2 linked regions of the Homo sapiens genome follow. The protein of the gene in region 2 purifies or fractionates together with the protein of the main gene of each other region. This does not show direct contact. Each region holds a gene or a part of one and is shown on either strand. Other genes may lie near its edges.

Region 1 (3,754 bases), on a different chromosome or scaffold from region 2:
TCAACGGCACCATCCAGTCAGTACCCCCGACCATCACTGTGCTGCCCGCCCAGTTGGCCCCCACAAAGGTGACGCAGCCCATCCTCCAGACGGCTCTACCGTGCCAGATCCTCGGCCAGACTAGCCTGGTGCTGACTCAGGTGACCAGCGGGTCAACAACCGTCTCTTGCTCCCCCATCACACTTGCCGTGGCAGGAGTCACCAACCATGGCCAGAAGAGACCCTTGGTGACTCCCCAAGCTGCCCCCGAACCCAAGCGTCCACACATCGCTCAGGTGCCAGAGCCCCCACCCAAGGTGGCCAACCCCCCGCTCACACCAGCCAGTGACCGCAAGAAGACAAAGGAGCAGATAGCACATCTCAAGGCCAGCTTTCTCCAGAGCCAGTTCCCTGACGATGCCGAGGTTTACCGGCTCATCGAGGTGACTGGCCTTGCCAGGAGCGAGATCAAGAAGTGGTTCAGTGACCACCGATATCGGTGTCAAAGGGGCATCGTCCACATCACCAGCGAATCCCTTGCCAAAGACCAGTTGGCCATCGCGGCCTCCCGACACGGTCGCACGTATCATGCGTACCCAGACTTTGCCCCCCAGAAGTTCAAAGAGAAAACACAGGGTCAGGTTAAAATCTTGGAAGACAGCTTTTTGAAAAGTTCTTTTCCTACCCAAGCAGAACTGGATCGGCTAAGGGTGGAGACCAAGCTGAGCAGGAGAGAGATCGACTCCTGGTTCTCGGAGAGGCGGAAGCTTCGAGACAGCATGGAACAAGCTGTCTTGGATTCCATGGGGTCTGGCAAAAAAGGCCAAGATGTGGGAGCCCCCAATGGTGCTCTGTCTCGACTCGACCAGCTCTCCGGTGCCCAGTTAACAAGTTCTCTGCCCAGCCCTTCGCCAGCAATTGCAAAAAGTCAAGAACAGGTTCATCTCCTGAGGAGCACGTTTGCAAGAACCCAGTGGCCTACTCCCCAGGAGTACGACCAGTTAGCGGCCAAGACTGGCCTGGTCCGAACTGAGATTGTGCGTTGGTTCAAGGAGAACAGATGCTTGCTGAAAACGGGAACCGTGAAGTGGATGGAGCAGTACCAGCACCAGCCCATGGCAGATGATCACGGCTACGATGCCGTAGCAAGGAAAGCAACAAAACCCATGGCCGAGAGCCCAAAGAACGGGGGTGATGTGGTTCCACAATATTACAAGGACCCCAAAAAGCTCTGCGAAGAGGACTTGGAGAAGTTGGTGACCAGGGTAAAAGTAGGCAGCGAGCCAGCAAAAGACTGTTTGCCAGCAAAGCCCTCAGAGGCCACCTCAGACCGGTCAGAGGGCAGCAGCCGGGACGGCCAGGGTAGCGACGAGAACGAGGAGTCGAGCGTTGTGGATTACGTGGAGGTGACGGTCGGGGAGGAGGATGCGATCTCAGATAGATCAGATAGCTGGAGTCAGGCTGCGGCAGAAGGTGTGTCGGAACTGGCTGAATCAGACTCCGACTGCGTCCCTGCAGAGGCTGGCCAGGCCTAGACAGGTAATTCCACCTGCTCACCCAGGCAGCAGGGGAGAACGCAGCTTGCTTTCTTTTCGTTGCCAGGGTTAATATAGATTGTAGGGTACAGAGATGTTGACACAGATGGTGGCGTCTTTTTCTTGTAATTAACAAATAAGAATGATGTATATTGATCACATACAATATGATGTTTTGAAATATGTTTACCTAGTGGGATGGCTCAGTTAAGCTGATTCCCGTATGCATTACCTCACATACTTATTCTTGTAGTGGAAGGGTCTGGTTTTGGTTTTGGTGTTTTGTTTTGTTTTGTTTTTAGTGACAGAGTCTTGCTCTGCCACCCAGGCTGCAGTGCAGTGGCTCGATCATAGGTCATTGTAGCCTCAAACTCCTGGGCCCAAGCGATCCTCCCCCCTCAGCTTATCAAGTAGCTGGGACTTCAGGCATCTGCCACCACACCCAACTAATATTTTAATATTTTGGTAGAGACGGGGTCTCACTTTGTTGCCCAGGCTGGTCTCAAACTCCTGGACTCAAGGAATTCCTTTGCATCTGCCTCCCAAAGTGCTGGGATTACAGGCATGAGCCACTGAGCCCGGCTGATGAGTTATTTGTAAAGGTTCTTTGAAAAAAGAAGAAAAATGGGGGCTGATGGAACCTACGTCCTCATTTGTAAGGCTGTGCCCAGGGGGCAGCACCGCTGGCTGTGGCCTGTTTGGGCTCCAGCCTTCAGGCCTGTCCATTCTGAAGGTTAGTTTTGACTGTTAGAAAACACATCCTCCCTCTGTGTGTTTTGTGTTTGTTGCTGTAAAAACACCAAACATGAAGAGGTTGTTTCTTTTTTTTTTTCCCCCCTTTTCTTTTTGGATTTTTTAAGAATACATATCCAAGTTTACTGAATCAAAGACCTGAGCTTATTTCTTCTAATCTGAAAAGGCTTTGAAAGTGCTTGATATTTGCCTTGTCAGGGCAAAAGGAAGGTGCCACTGTGCTTGGGTCCCCATAACCCCTTCAAATCTGGAAGAGCCGGGTGTAAATTAGGCCTGTAGAGTCACATAAGCCGGGGGGGGGGGGGTGGCAGGGCGGTTTCCATGGTTACTAATGGCCATGTCATCCCCATAATGGGACATGCCACTGAAGCCCTTGGTATTCTGCTTCCTAAGAGGTCAGTGCAAATCGAGGCCTGAAGCACAGCAGCTTGGTGGTGAGTTGAGAAATGGGGGCAGTGGCAGGGGGAGGGCTGGTGGGAGGGAAAGCAAATATTACAAGGAGGAAGATGCACGATTTGCCCAGGTAGGCTTCTCCAGAGGTCACTTAAAATACCACGGAATGGGCCTCCCAAGTTATCTTTACAAAATATAAAATAAAGGTAAGAACCTCCAGAATGATTGATAAGGTCCCAAAGGCAGCCCTGGAAATTACCACACCTCTGTCTTAATGAACTTGGACAACTTTGGCTGACCACGTCGCTCATTAACTCATTGATTCACTAATAAAATGAGGCAGCTGACAAATAAATGAAATTCTCTAGAAACCTTGTTTTAGCCAGTTCCATCCGCTATTAAAAGAGCACTTTAACGAGCAGCCAATCCCAGAATGCCATCATGTTCCATTCTCCTTTCTCCTCCCACTTGCAGGAGGAAATGCCTGTGTGTCAAGGGTGTGGGCACAACCCAAAGGGGAGGGCGTGAGTGAAAGGAAGGGGATAGAAGTGTACTGAGGTCACAATGACAGCAACTTCCCACCTCTACCTGGCCACCTCTGGCCATTCTCCCACCTTAGAAGAACCTACCAGTCTAGCCCATACCTCCCTCATTAAAATGAGGGAGTGATTTTTTTTTTTTTTTTTTTTTTTGAGACAGAGTCTCACTCTGTTGCCCAGGCTGGAATGCAATGGCACGATCTCAACTCACTGCAACCTCCACCTCTTGGGTTCAAGCAGTTCTCCTGCATCAGCCTCCCGAGTAGCTGGGATTACAGGCATGCGCCACCCCACCCGGCTAATTTTCATATTTTTAGTAGAGACGGGGTTTTGCCGTGTTGGCCAGGCTGATCTCAAACTCCTGACCTCAGATGATCCACCCACCTTGGCCTCCCAAAGTGCTGGGATTACAGGCGTGAGCCACCACGCCCGACCTCCCATCTTCTATCCTTGATCTTTTCCCATCCATGACACGTGTCTACATGGTTGCTTTTTCCTCCCACCCCAGAGAGGACAATAGGGTTCAGTTCCATTCAACAGTACCTTCTGAGCACC
Region 2 (3,754 bases):
GTTTTTTTGTTTTTTGAGACGGAGTTTCGCTCTTATTGCCCAGGCTGGGGTGCAATGGCGCGATCTCGGCTCACCGCAACATCTGCCTCCCGGGTTCAAGCGATTCTCCTGCCTCAGCCTCCGGAGTAGCTGGGATTACAGGCGCCCGGCACCATGCCCAGTTAATTTTTGTATTTTTAGTAGAGACAGGGTTTCACCATGTTGGCCAGGCTGTTCTTGAACTCCTAACCTCAAGTGATCCACCCGCCTCTGCCTCCCAAAGTGCTGGGATTACAGGCCTGAGCCACCGTGCCTGGCTGCGTTTTTCATCTTTAAACATCATAAAAACGCCTCAAAACTAGTTTCTCTGAAATTTCACACCCATCAGCCTTATTCCCTTATCTTCTCGGAGGAAGACTTCCCTCCACTTCTTTCCAGGCTAGGAAAGGAATATCCTCCATATTGCCACAGGACCTAGGCCTATTAGTACTCTTTCTTGGACATCTGCAACCTCCAACCTTCCTGCCTCCACTGATTCAAACTCTTCGCAGTTCTTAAATGTGCTAAAGATCCCTCCACACCAAAGGTCAATCGTGGATTCTCTCTTAATTTCCTGATAACTGCTTCATTTTCTTCCCTTGCTCCTTCGACTATCCACCTCTTGGCTAGACATCACATGCATGATTACATATACCAGGTAGATCACCAATACGCTGATTAGGCCTAAATGCCTAGCCCTGACTGAATTAGCCCAAACTTACCACTAAACCCACATTTTCAACCTCCTGATAGAATCACAAGCATGTCTCACATGCACATCAAATGCGACCTGGAAAGCAAAGAACTTGCTATTCTTCCCCCAAATGACAGTTCCCACTATTTGGGGACAGACCATTTCTACTCTATGTCCCCAAGCTGAAAAACTGTCTTTGCTGCCTTTTTGCTTACTCTTCATACGGATCTATTCATTGATTAGTTCCGTGGCTGTCAATATACAGTTGAATTCTTTACGATCCGGTTTGTGGCCTACATCCAACACCGACTGAGCACTTGCTAAGTACTGGGATCTGAAGATTACTCAGCCACTGTCTCCACGGAGATCATCGTTAACGGGAGAGAAAGCCACGTAAAACACCACGTTAGATGGAGAAGCACAGAGGACACCACCTCCACGAAAAAGTCTCACACGCGAGAAAGGACCCGCACCACAGCACCCGAGCCTCTATTAACCGCCGCCTTCCATCGTGAATTAATACTCTCGCTTTCAGCGTTATTATCAACCCCCTGCAAGCAATCAAGAGGCTGGGTTAAGTCCGGCTGGAGGGGCAGCAGGCATCCCTGGGCTGTCGCGCCTCCCAGCGCCCCCGATGGAGCAGGTGGCAAGGCTGCAAAAAGAATTTAAGGCTCTAGGAAAGAGGTGGTGCAGCCCGCACTCCAGTCCCCGGCCCGCAGCAGGCAGAGGAGGCTCCGGGTCTCCTTCACCCGGACACCGCCGGCGGAGAGGTCCACTCCCGTGCCCCTACCCTGGATGGATCGCTTACCTGAGGACCCCCAAACAGAGGTGCGTCCGGCCTCGCCTCCCCAGCCACGCGCAGCCGGCTACCCAGAGTCAGCTCCCACAGTCCGCACCCAGAGTCGGCTCCGAATTGCGCACGCGTCTCTGTCCGCGGCTCCCGCTCTCTCTCCGACGGCACTAGGCCTCCAAGGATGGAGGCGCCCTCCAGGGGAAAACGCTGAAGCGCTGCAAAGAAGCCAGCGACTCAATGGGTGCGTCAACTAGGCAGCCGCAGCACTGGGAGTGCGGCGCGGGAGTGACGTCACCAGGCGGAGGGGGCGAGGCCGGGCCCGCTTCTGGTCACTTACGGCGGCCGGCCTTCTTTGTAGGCCTGGCACCGTAGAGGTAGAGGAGCTACATTGGCCGCGTCCCCTGTCCCTCTGCCCTCTTGCCCATCTGCCCAAACTTTTGTATTTGATCTCTGTTTTGATGTCGAACCCCAAAGCACTGTAATTGGGGGGGGCGGGGGGGGGGGTGGAACCTGCGGACCTGAGAGCAGCGCGCGTGCGCACGACACGCGCTGTGCGCCGGAAGAGCACGCCCAGTCCGGGCTGCGCGGAGGAAGCGCTGGGGTCCCGGAGGGCGGGGGTGGCGGCGCCGGAGGTCGCCATGGCTACCGAGCCCGAAGCCGCGGAGCCGGTGGTGCCTTCGCTCGTGGATCGATACTTCACTCGCTGGTACAAACCGGGTAAGTGCGGAGTGATGTTGATCCCTCCTTGGCCGCACTGGCCTAATGCTGTGTAGACTATGTTGACAGATCATAAGCCACGCGCGCTCTCCCTGGCTCTCCGTCCCCACGTCAGAAGGCACTGGACTTCTGTGTTCCGTCTAGCCCCAGGGAATGGCATTTGCAAAGACCTGGTGGCCTGAAATACTTCAGGGCGCATTCTGGGGCCGGCGATTGCAGTGCGAGCTCTAGGGTGTTGCTCGCAGTAAGATGAGTACTCTAAACGGAGGCCCCAAAGGTAGGCGGAGGGCTAGGTTGCAACAGTCCTTAAGTGCCTGGAGGGATTGAGGGGCTCACTCTCACAGGGAGTAGCGATACATAAAATTATTTAAATGATCAGATCGAAACTAAGGTAGAGGCAGTAGGGATGGCGAGAAGAGGGTGGGTTAGATTAGAGACATTTAGAAAGAAGAAGAATCTATACATTTACCTTAAGAGACGCCATCTGCCACTTAGAAGTAGGTATTCTTTTTGTACTGTTTTGTGTAAGCAGAACCAGTGGTGGGAGCATCGTTGGGGACTCTCCTTTCTTCCTTTCATTCAGTGATAATGGTTATACTCAGTTTAAAAAATATATATTGTAGCATATTTTCTGTTGGCCAAACATAGGGTGACCAACCTGTCCTAGTTCACCCATGACTGAGGGGTTTCCCAGAATGTCGGACTTGCACCAACATCAGGACAGTCCTGGAAACCACCAACAAAAAATATATATCATAAAGAACGGGATGCTAATTGCATTTTCCTAGCAAAAATACTACGTGTACTCATTTTGAAGTGAGTGTAAAGTAAGATGGAGCAAGGAGTTAATTACCTTAATGTTGAATAAATTATTCTATCTGGGCCAGATCTCTTTAAATACTTTCTAGGAAACCTTTAGGTATGTCTTTTTGAGTAATGAAGGGATACCCGTGATCAGCATGCAGCATGTATGTGTCCAGTCTTCATTATCAACTATATGACCCAAAGAAAGTACCACATAGTGGTAGTAAATATTGATTTCAGCCACCAACAGACTCATGTATTCTTCTAGATGTCAAAGGAAAATTTTGTGAGGACCACTGTATACTACAGCACTCTAACCGGTAAGCAAATTGGGAATTTTAAATTATCAAAAATTTTTTTTTCCTGGTATTGTAGCCTGGTATGGTCTTGTGGTCTTGGATTGAACAAATGTTCACTAAACAAACATGCATTAATTATCTTCTACTGTGTTGAAATGGTATTATTATAGGAGTTTGTTTGGCAAGAATGAGTATTCCAGTGCCTGGCCACTCTGAACATATAAATTTGATTACTCAAACATCCAAATGGAGGACCACATCATCAGCTGCTACTTGAAGTGGCCAGTCTGTGCCCAACTACTGAACTGTTCAGAGCCCACAGAAAGGGCTACGGTAGAGACATGTATGGTATCTCGTATACACAGGCATGCCTTATTTCTTTGTCTTCTACCCCAGTGCTACCTACCTAAAGACCTCTGGTACTCTTCC

Evidence for each region. The genes of interacting proteins can lie anywhere in the genome.
Region 1: the proteins of ABITRAM (region 2) and ZHX2 purify together in Homo sapiens (affinity purification with mass spectrometry; 2 studies listed by BioGRID and IntAct, with this or other methods). This does not show direct contact.

The regions. Positions count from the first base shown.
Region 1 is NC_000008.11:122,952,511-122,956,264, forward strand, and holds part of ZHX2 (zinc fingers and homeoboxes protein 2), read left to right. Parts: coding exon 1-1,514; 3' UTR 1,515-1,518; exon of another isoform or gene 1,519-3,027; intron 3,028-3,754. UniProt on the Homo sapiens protein: Acts as a transcriptional repressor. Represses the promoter activity of the CDC25C gene stimulated by NFYA.
Region 2 is NC_000009.12:108,932,344-108,936,097, forward strand, and holds the start of ABITRAM (protein Abitram), read left to right. Parts: upstream 1-2,056; 5' UTR 2,057-2,143; coding exon 2,144-2,222; intron 2,223-3,294; coding exon 3,295-3,346; intron 3,347-3,754. UniProt on the Homo sapiens protein: Actin-binding protein that regulates actin polymerization, filopodia dynamics and increases the branching of proximal dendrites of developing neurons.